Linked DNA regions of Homo sapiens: region 1 is linked to region 2. Evidence: fine-mapped expression QTL. A gene starts in region 2. The other region holds a variant in brackets. All regions are shown on one strand. Distances are between the middles of the regions. Region 1 overlaps SPOPL (speckle type BTB/POZ protein like). Region 2 holds the start of SPOPL (speckle type BTB/POZ protein like).

Region 1 (5,385 bases), 34 kb after region 2:
TCCTATTATCCACTCAGCAACCATAGGGCAATGAGGTGCTATAATAATTTAATAAACAAAGGAGAGGCCCAGTATCTATAAGATCACAGAATTCATGGCAAAGCACTGATTCACATTGGTCTCAGTATATAGCTCTTGTTATTAAAGTCTATGCTATTGTTTGTGGTCTTTCTATAATCTTGTTTGCTTCCTATAGAATACAGCTCAGGGAATATCTTCAGGACATTTTCTGTGTCCTGAAGTGCTTCATTATCACTGTTACAGTACTCTCTCATATTATCATATTCAAAATATCTCCGTGTCTGTATCCTCTACTATGTTATAGTTTTTGCCAAGAGTAGGGAATGTGTTTTATTTATCTTCATACCCCAGGTTTCGTTAGAGTGCATGATATATCTAAGCATATAATAAATGTTCATTGTATTTCCCTAAAGTCATCGTATACTTAATTTGAATAGATTTAAGAAATTTATATGTGTATTACTATTTTATCACCTTTATAAACACTTATTAGAATCTTAATTATTCTCCCTGGTACAGTCTTAGCAAAACTGTTGAACATTATATGTTATATATTATATTAACTCTTTTTCATCATATATATAAAGTTGTTTTGACCTCAGGCAGTATTTTGTTATAACATCCTGAAGCAGTTCAGAGGACTTTTAGCATAAATATGGTAGTATTTCAAAATTGTAATTTACCATTTGTTAATTGTAGAATTAATAAACAAAAATACTGTATGTATAATTAAACCACAATTGATTAAGCTACCTCCTAGAAGATGAATGAGCTGATTGCAGATGACAATGAAAGACGTAGCTCATAAACATCAGTCTCATTTTATAACTGGATAAAATTTTGATAATGCTCTTTAGACAGCATGATTTTTTTTAACCCTACTTTGCTGGATAATTTATATATTTTATTGGTCTAGAAGCTTGATAGCTAACACACTTGATATACTGCAAAATTGAAGACATTTTTTAAAGAAACAATAGTTTTTCCTTTGGGTGATTAAAAATAACGATTAGTACTTTATTCTCTAATAGTGGCTAATATAGACTCAATAGTTATAGAAGGTGTTTTATAGAGTTGACCCTCTGTATCCACCGATTCTGCATCTGAGGATTCAACCAACTGTGGATCAAAAATATATGGGAAAAAAAATTAACAATACAACAATTTAAAAAATCTAATAAAACAGCACAGTATAACAACTATTTACATAGCATTTACATTGTATTAGGTGTTAAGTAATCTAGAGATGATCTAAAGATACCAGAGGATATGTGTATATCAAATGCAGATATTATACCATTTTGTATAAGGGACTGGAACATCTGTGAATTTTGGTATCCATGGGAGTCCTGGAATCAGTCTCCCATGGAAACAAAGGGACAACTTTGATTACTTTTTAATCACAAAAGAAATGTGTATATATGTGCATATGGACTTCTATGTGCAGGTATTTTTTTTAAATGAGGCAAAATTCATATAACATAAAATCTATCATTTTTACTTTTTTAAAAAGTACAGTTCCGTAATGGCTTAGTACATTGACAGTGTTGTGCAACTAGCACCTCTGTCTAGTTCCAGAACACTTTTATCAGTCCCAGAGGAAACTCCATAACCAATTACTTACCATTTCCCCCTCCCCACAGGTCTGGCAACTACTAATCTGCTTTTTGTATGTATGGATCTGCCCAATATTTAAAACAAGTGAAATGATACAATGTGGCCTTTTGTGCCTATCTTCTTTCACTTAGCATAATGTTTTCAAGATTCATTCATGTTGTAACATGCATCAATACTTTATTTATTTTTATGACTACATATTATTTCATTGTGTGACCAGGCTTAATGGCTCACACCTGTAATCTCAGCACTTTGGGAGGCTGAGCTGGAAGGATCTCTTGAGCCCAGGAGTTCAGGACCAAACTGAGCAACAGTGAGATCTTGTGTCTATAAGAAATAAAATTACCCAGGTGTGGGCAGTGAGCTGTGATTGCATCACTGTATTTCAGCCTGAGTGGCAGAGCAAGACACTGTTTAAAAAAAGGAAAATTCATTGTGTACATGTACCACATTTTAAAAATTCATTTATTGCTTGATGAACATTTGGATTGTCCATCAATGAATGGATTATTAGCTAGTAACCTTTTGGCTATTGTGAATACTGCAGCAAAGAACATTTATGTTTCAGTCATTTGAACACCTGTTTCCAGTTCTTTTGGATATATACCTAGGAGTAGAATAGCTGGATCATGTGGTAATTCTATGTTTAATTTTTTGAGGAATCCTTAAACTGTTTTCCACAGCGGTTAAACCATTATACATCTCCACAAGCAATGTCCAAGGATTCCAGTTTCTCTACATCCTCGTCAATGCAGGTGATTCCCCACTCCTTTTTTTTTTTTTAATAGCCATTCTAGTAGCTTTTTTTTTTTTTTTTTTGGTCTTTTTCAGCATTTTTACTGTGATCCATGTGTTTGTGGGTTTCTTTGCATTTAACCTACTTGGAGTTGATTGAGCTCCTTAAATGTGTATATTATTGCTTTTCAATAAATTTGAGAAGTTTTCAGCCATTTTTTTTAGTTATCTTTTTCTGCTGCTTCTGTCTTTCTTCTCCTTCTGATACTCCCATTATATACATGTCAGTGTGCTTAAAATAATGTCCTACAGTTCTCTGAAGATGTTCATTTTTCTTCATATTTTTCTGTCTGGATTGTATAATCTCTACTGATTTGTCTGTAAGTTCACTAATTCTTCTATTTGTTCATATCTACTGTTGACCTCCTCTAGTGAATTTTCATTTCAGTTATATGGTTCAGCTCCAGAATTTTTATTTGGTTCTTTTAAAAAAAATAACCTTTACCTTTTTGTTGACATTCTTTATTTTTTTTGTGTGACATTGTCATCA[T/C]ACCTTCCTCTAATTATGATTTCCTTTAGTTCTTTACACATACTTATTAATGGCTATTTGGAATGCTTTGTCTGTTAAATCCAACATGTAAGTTTAATCACAGTTTCTGTTATCTGTTTTTTTCCCCAGCATATGGGTCATACTTTCTGTTTTTTCATGCCTCGTAATTTTCTATTCAAAGCTGGATATTTTATGTAGTAAATTGAGAAATTCTTGGAACTGGTTTCTTCCTTCCAGTGCATGCTGTTGCTTCTTGCTTATTTTGTTTATGGACTGTTTTAGTGGAGTCTATTTAGTGCCCCCCCCCCACACACACACACACGCACACAGTGTTAAGCCTCTGATGTTGCACCTCTGGGGAAGCAGCCTTGGGTATTCCCAGTTACCCTGGGTGATGGTGGTTTGGCAGGGCTTTCTTTTTGCCTGACTACTCACATCTGTTAAGGTCCATTAATCTAGTGCTAATTGCACTGTTTTCAACAATGCCCTGGGGCATTATGTTGTTCTGCAGACTCATCAACTTTGGTTTCCTTTGAAGAAATAGTTCCCTAAGTCAGTGCCTGAAATTTCTTCCGAATCCAGGTGGGCTCCTCTCAGCTGTGTCTTTTCCTGTTTTTTTTTGGGCAAATCAGCTGTCCTGTAGTTTAGCCTTTGTATCCATTGATTCCTCCAGTCTCTTCTCATTTGCCTCTCACAGCCTCTACTGTTTTTCAGATCATGCTTGCCTGTTTCCTTGCAAATGAACTTCTTTTCTCTGGGAAGAGATTAAAAGCAGTCTGCTTTATGGTCCACTTCTTTCCACAGGCAAACATCTCCAAGCCCAGGCTCTGGAGTAAGGAGGAAGGAACAATGGTATTTCTTTCCCAGTGTATCTCTACTGTAGGAGCTGTGCTGGAGGGAGGCAGTAGCCTCAGTTCTTCTTATCTTCACGCTCTTTGTATGGAACCCACAGTTTACAAGCCAAGACAGCAGTGATTGGTACCCTGACAGCACCATGCCCAAAGTAGAGCCTCCACCTTTCCGGCAGTGACAGATTTGAAGAAGGGAGCCAGCCCCTTACCTCTTGGTTTCATTCACCTGTAACATCAGCATTAAGTAGCTAGAGGTGTAGCAGCATGAGCCAAACAAACAAACAAAACCCCTCAGACACCGAGTTGAGGAAGGAAAGGACTTTATTCGGCTGGGAGCATCGGCAGACTTACATCTCAAACAACCGAGCTCCCTGAGTGAGCAATTTCTGTCCCTTTTAAGGGCTTATGACTCTTAAGGGTGTCCACGTGAGAGGGTCATGATCGATTGAGCAAGCAGGGGATACATGATTGGGGGCTGCATGCACCGGTAATCAGAACGGAACAGAACAGTACGGGGATTTTCACAATGCTTTTCCATACAGTGTCTGGAATCTATAGATAACACAAGCAGTTCAGTCATGGGTTGATTTTTAACTACCAGGCCCAGGGCGTGGCATCGGGCTGTCTGCCTGTGGATTTCATTTCTGCCTTTTAGTTTTTACTTCTTTTTTCTTTGGAGGCAGAAATTGGGCACAAGACAATATGAAGGGTGGTCTTCTCCCTTAGAGGCAGGATGAGAAATGTTGACATCCTTCCTGTCACAGGAGGACATTGACTGGACCTGTTGGAAGAGGGAACACAGTGCTTATGGCTACACCAGTCTAGAGTGGAGTTTCTGACTCCTTGAGTTAGGACAGAGCAGCTCCTGGTTCAAAGACCACAGACTCTCACTTTTCTCATAGTCTCTACTAAATTTTCTTGAATAAATGTTTCTTCATTTGTTCTGTGCTTCCAGCAGTGTTTTTATATTTTTCACCAAATTTTCTGGGGAGTATGTCCATGGAACTCCTCAAGTTGTCACGCTGAAAGTTTTTTTCATTAGTGGTTCAGTCTCTGCTGGTTATGGGGGTCTGTTCACATTTTCGGTTTCCTCTTGAGTCAGTTTTGGTAGTTCCACATTTGTGAATTTTAAAATTTTTTCTTCTGTTACTGATTTATAGTTTCATTCAACTGCAATCAGAGAGGATACTTTGTATAATTTAAATTTTTTTAAATTCGTCGAGACTTGTTTTGTGGCCTCGGTAGCATATGGTCTGTCCTTGAGAACATTCCATATGCACTTGAGAAGAATGTGTGTTCCACTGTTGATGAGTGAAATGGCTGTTAGGTCTAGTTATTTTATACTGCTGTTCAAGTCTTCTATCTCTTTATTGATCTTCCTCGTTCTCTGCATCATTGAATGTTGGGTATTTCTGTCTCCAGCTATTATTGTAGAATTGTCTATTCTCTCTTTAATTCTGTTAGTTTTTGCTTGATATCGTTTGGGGCTCTATTATTTGGTGTATATATGTTTGTACTTGTCATACCTTCTTGATGAATTGACCCTTTTATCAATAGATAATATCCTTTGTCTCTCATAACAATTTTTGACTTAAAGTCTGTTTTGTCTTA
Region 2 (5,385 bases):
TGATCCTAATGGTTAATGACTTAAACGAAGCAAGCCCAATACTGACCTAGCAGAGGCAAACTGTGCTCTACACTAATGACAAAGCTGTTATTTCTCTATTTTAAAAATTTATTTACGGCAGCAATAAATGAAAGCCTATCATATCTCTCTAGTTTTCCAATAGGTATCCAGTAAGTAGGAAATCAAATTAAGAAGGTAGTTCTTTAGCAGACTGGTAACAAAGCATCAAGCTTTAGTAAGCTTTAATCCAAACTTACTGACCATAAAACCATCTTTTACTTTGCTAAGCCATCACAGTTTTGTTAGCATTACTTACAAGCCATATTCACTCTTACTATTTACTATCATTTTATTAGTGGGTAAAGTCATTGAATACTGCAAGCAAGAGAGGAATGGTGTGTCCTAACACTTAGGGTAAGGAGATCAAGCCTAGGGAAAAGACTCTCTGAGAATACCCTGAGGAGCAATTTGACATCCTTGTGGTGGAAGTTTATTGAATCAGTTCCCAACTTCAGCCCAGTCAACTGTGAAGGGTCAGCATCACTCTTAACTTCCAATTGGAAATGTACTTGATGGACTTATAACTTAATTCTATGAGTGTATTATATTTACTAGGTGTCTTATAATTTTTAATTATGGGAAGAGAGGGGGTGACATACTACGAAGGGATTGAAAGAGCTAAAAGGCTTAGTCAAAAATTACATGTAATTTTTGCTGTATGTCACATACCATAAAGTTAACACGGGTGGACAGTGAGTATAGCAAATCGTTTCAACTGTTCTTTGCTGGTGTTTGGAGATGGTTAAATGTTTACACAAATATTTCCTCTCTCCACCAACTCTTTCCCCATTCCCTAATGCTCACTTCCACTTCTGTTTTTTAACTTTTGGAGTTCCTTGATCTGCATAAACATTCTACCAACTCAGCCCAAGGCAACTTTGAATTTTATGGTTACATTGCTAATTTTATCTTTATCTGAAAACCTTTGGCACAGATTTTGTCTTAAAGCACGTTTTGTCTTAAATAAGTCAACAGGATTGCTAACGTAAGGTCAGGTGCTAATCCCAGCATTTTGGGAGGCAGAAGTGGGAGGATCACTTGAGGCCAGGAGTTTGAGCCCAGCCTGGGCAATATGGTGAGACTCTGTTTCTACTAAAAATACAAAAATTAGCCGGGCTCACGCCTGTAGTCCCAGATACTTGGTGGCTGAGGCACAGAATTGCTTGAATCTGGGAGGTGACCCAGGATCGCGCCACTGCACTCCAGCCTGGCGTACAAAGCGAGATCCTGTCTCAAACAAACAAAAAGAAAAAAGAAATAAAAAAGACAGCTAATGTAGTATTAATTTGAAATGAGGGGGATCTGCCTGTCCAGTATTCAAATCCCAGTAACCTCTGGATGAATTACTTGCCATTTCTAGTTCTTGTCGCTTAATTTTAAGATGGAAATTTCTACGTTGAAGTTTTAGAGAGGTTGTTGAGAGAACAGAGACGATACAAGTCCATGCTTAGAATACTCAGTACATAGCAAAATAATAAATATTTTCCCTCTGCCCTCTCTCTTTTCTTGGAAAGCCAGGTAAGCAATGAGAAGTTGGTTTATGGCCAGGTGTGGTGGTTCACGCCTGCAAATCCCAGCACTTTGGGAGACCAAGGTGGGAGGATCCCTTGAGCTCAGGAGTTCGAGATCTGCTTGGGCCACATAGCAAGACCTCGTCTCCACAAAAAATTAAGATTACCTGGGCGTGGCACATTCCTGTAGTCCCAGCTACGGGAGGCTGAGTTGGGAGGATCACTTTAGCCTAGGAGGTCGAGGCTGCAGTGAGCTGTGATGGCACCACTGCACTCCAGCCTGGGTGACAGCCCTGTCAAAAACAAAACAAAACAAAAATTGCTGACGTATGCACAGTTAAAGCAAAAAGAGTTGGGATCCTTGAATGACGTTCATGTCTGTTCTGGCAAAGCCGGGATTGTTGGTCCCCCAAACTTCTTTAAAGAAGTTTACTCCTGGTAGCTCGATTAAGTATCTTTGTCCCATGGCCGTGGGGAATAAAAAGTTCAGTTGTCACCCCCTTTTTAAACTAAATGTCCGAAGAGACAAGGCAATCCCATCCTCTCTTCACACATTTGTGCAGGTGCAGCTTTATTTCCCACCGTGCGGTCCCAGGAGGCCGCCTGGTCTTCTGCGCTCACTTCCTAGGCATCCCTGGCCGCCCCTCGGCAGCCTCTCCTTCTGGCCTGAGACTTCCAGCTGAGCCTCATCCCCTCCACCTGAAAACTGCTCCATGGGGCACTTCATCTACCTGGAAAGTTCTCGATTTCCAACTGGAGCCTGTATACTGCTGGTTGTGTCTCAGCAGTTATTACAGCTCTGGGCTTACAACGGGAGCTTAGCAAAAGTTCCACCCTGGCTTCCTAGACTGCTACAGCTCCAAGAAAAATCCTGTGCGCACAAACGGCCGCCGCCTTTGGCGTCTCCCGCGGATTAGACCAGTTAGGAGGTCTCAGTAGGCTTTTAGGCAGGACAAGTTTTACGCCTGGCCAAATAAGGGTCAGACTAAGCAAGGCGCCTCCGTGCGCCTAGCCAGAGCGGTGCCGGCTGCGGAACCTGCCCCGCCGGGAGCCTAGTGCCATGCAGCAGCGGCGGCGGTGGCGGCTTCCCAAGCGCGGCGGCAAATCCGGGCCCGCCCGGAAGTGCCCGGCGCTGTAGGAGGGAGCAAGGGCCCAGGAGCCGCCGCCGCCGCCGCCGCGCGCACGCGCCCTCGCGGGCTGGAGCCGGGGCTGGAGTCGTAACTCGGAAGCCGGAGCCCAGACGGGCCCGCGGCGGGGGGGTGGGGGCTGCGCGGGGGCGGGAGTGGCGGAGGTGGCCGCCCCTGGCGGCGGGTTTGTTTATCCCGGGGAAGAAGTTTAGGAGCGGGAGATAGGGAAGGAGGGCGGGTCGGGGAGGAGGGATGCGGTTCGGCGGAGGCGGCCGCCACAGGGACTTGCCGCCATCACCCCTGCTGCCACCACCGCAGCCTCGGGCTCCCAGGGCGGACACGGCCACCGCCTCAGCGGGAGAGGAGTCTCCACCAGGACTGACCGCTGCCGCCCAGCACGTCCAGGTAGGCGCCCCTTCCCCTCCCCCCAGTCCCCGCGGCAGCCCCAGGCGCTTGCTCCCCTCCCCCGGCTCTCCGTAGACCGGCGGCCTCCTGCTCGCGCCTCACTGCGCCCTCTGCTCTCTGGGTCCCGGACCCCTGCTCGGGCGGCGAGCTCCGGCCTGCTCTGGGGACTACCTCCCACGCCCCCGGACCGCCCTTCCCTCGCGCGGCGGCACCACTTTCCCCGGGGTTGCCCCCAATCCCTCCTTGATTTCCCAGCCTCCACCTTCCAGGATCCCCTTTAGTTTTACCCCCGGGCCTCGCCCCTTCTTTTCCTCTGGCTTCTCTCCTCCTCTATACCTGTATACCTCCACACCTGCCCCTTTTTACCTGAGTGCTGCCCAAAGGCAGAAACTGCATGCTCTGCCACCGCGCAGCGTCCACTTTCATACCTCCTCATCCCAAATACAGACACTTGAAACTCTCGTCCCTGTTAGCCCATTTTAGGCAGAGTTCTCAGCTTCGCAGACCGCTCACTACCTCCAGTCCGGTGGTCATGCCTTTAACCTCTCTTTAACCTGCTTTCTAATACATTTTTGCTCACTTATACCAGAGTACATCAAGCTAACCGCGCGGTTCGGGGTCCAAGTCTTCAAAGAGCCCACTTGTATTCCTGCTGCTCTCCTTTTTCCTAATTCTTTTTGAGTCAATGTATTTGTATATTGATTCAACATAAAAGAAAAGGGAAGGTAGCATTTTCTCTCTCAAAGCAGTCACACAACCCAGTAGAAATAAGATTCACCATCTGCTTATCCTAACTTTCGCTTGTCTCTTTCCTGACTGAACTCTGTCATTCAGTGATTCTTTCCAGGCTTCTGATGCTTTGTCTATTTTTGAATAATCTTGGGCCTAGTTTGACCCATTGTGGTACTCACTTTCCCACTTGCAATTGAATCCACTGTTTCTTGGACTAGAAACTGACAGAGGTAAAAGGTTCATACCTTGAAAAATTACATCTCTCCTGCCACGATGAGATTGGTGGAATATTTCAAATTACCATTTCATCATTCTTGTGAGAAATGTTGCCTAGTGGTTAAGAACTCTTCTCTAGAGCTCAGACTAGTATATAGTTGCCAGGGTGTAAACCCTTGCTCTGCCATCTACCAGCTTTGGCTTTGGGGAAGTTACTTAATATTTCTTCGCCTCAGTATACTTACAGCTGTAAAATGGGGTTATGATATGACATCACAGGATGGTGCTAGTAATTGCACAAGTAAATACAAGTAAAGTACTTAAAACAGTACCTGGCACAGGGCAAATATCTGATAAATGCTATCATCACTTCTTGGTTTGACTTGATCTGGCTTGTGGGTAGATTAATTCTAAGACAGGAAGGTGGGAATGGAAAGCTACTTTCTTATTCTTTGACATTTAACAACCTTTTTTGATATAGATAGCATGTATAATTTGTTATTGTATAAATTAATTCCTTCTGATTTGAAAACTACAGGGTTTTAGCCCACCATTTTCAAGGCAGCTAACTACCAAGCTACAGATAGGTCAGTCCTTATTTCAGATGTCTATTTGGAACTTCTACAATTTTACCTTTGTTTTGAGAATAAACAAAGTGAAAGTACTGTGTATAACAGATTCATCATACTGGAAAATGAGATTTTACAGATAAAAGTTTTAGTACTGTAAGTTAAATACTCAAAACTGGTGGTATTCTTCATACTCATCTGACCTTTATCTTCAATCACTACTCGAGATAGAGCTTTGGCTTGTCTTCCTTCAGAAGACTGGTGGCCGTTTTCTCTTAATGTGTTATGTTCATTCATATTCACATGTCTTCTTGGCTTGGTGTTTACAGAATTTTACTCACTTTAAAAAATGCTGACAGTTTTTGCCGTATTTGCTTACCTCTTGTGCACTGTTGCTTACTTATTACATTTTTAAAGGACTCACATTAAAAGATCTGAATAGATATTACTTTTGTGTTGTTTTAAATAGTAAAAGTTTGAAATCACTATTTGCTGTCCTAATTACATGTAAAAATATGTACATATGTAACTATCAAAATAAAAATGTTTTTCCATTTATAGTTTAAAATCATTCTTGTGCCACCATGGAACATGTTCCATACTTGGGGGTGACACTGTTTTTGGTAATGCTGTTCCCTGACCTAGAATAACCTTTGCTCTTTCTCCTGTATATCCAGGTTCTACCTGATTTTCATCTCTCACTGCTTCCACATAGTTCCTTCCAACATTTAGTTTCTTGGCTTTCCTAATGTCTATATCTGCATT

Evidence for each region.
Region 1: its variant is fine-mapped to the expression of SPOPL in blood mononuclear cells (TOPMed, PIP 0.98).

What each region holds. Positions count from the first base shown.
Region 1 is chr2:138,533,117-138,538,501 of GRCh38, forward strand. All of the region lies in intron 1 of SPOPL (speckle type BTB/POZ protein like), which reads left to right. Among named protein-coding and RNA genes, the nearest start is that of SPOPL, 34 kb to the left of the region's middle. The variant T/C (reference allele first, on the strand shown) is at 2,924.
Region 2 is chr2:138,499,017-138,504,401 of GRCh38, forward strand. It overlaps SPOPL (speckle type BTB/POZ protein like), which reads left to right and starts at 2,754. Exons shown (of 11, transcript NM_001001664.3): 1 at 2,754-3,103. It overlaps SPOPL-DT (SPOPL divergent transcript), which reads right to left and starts at 2,679. Exons shown (of 2, transcript NR_187149.1): 1 at 2,303-2,679; 2 at 1-1,864. RefSeq lists silencers at 2,650-3,189, 3,390-3,439.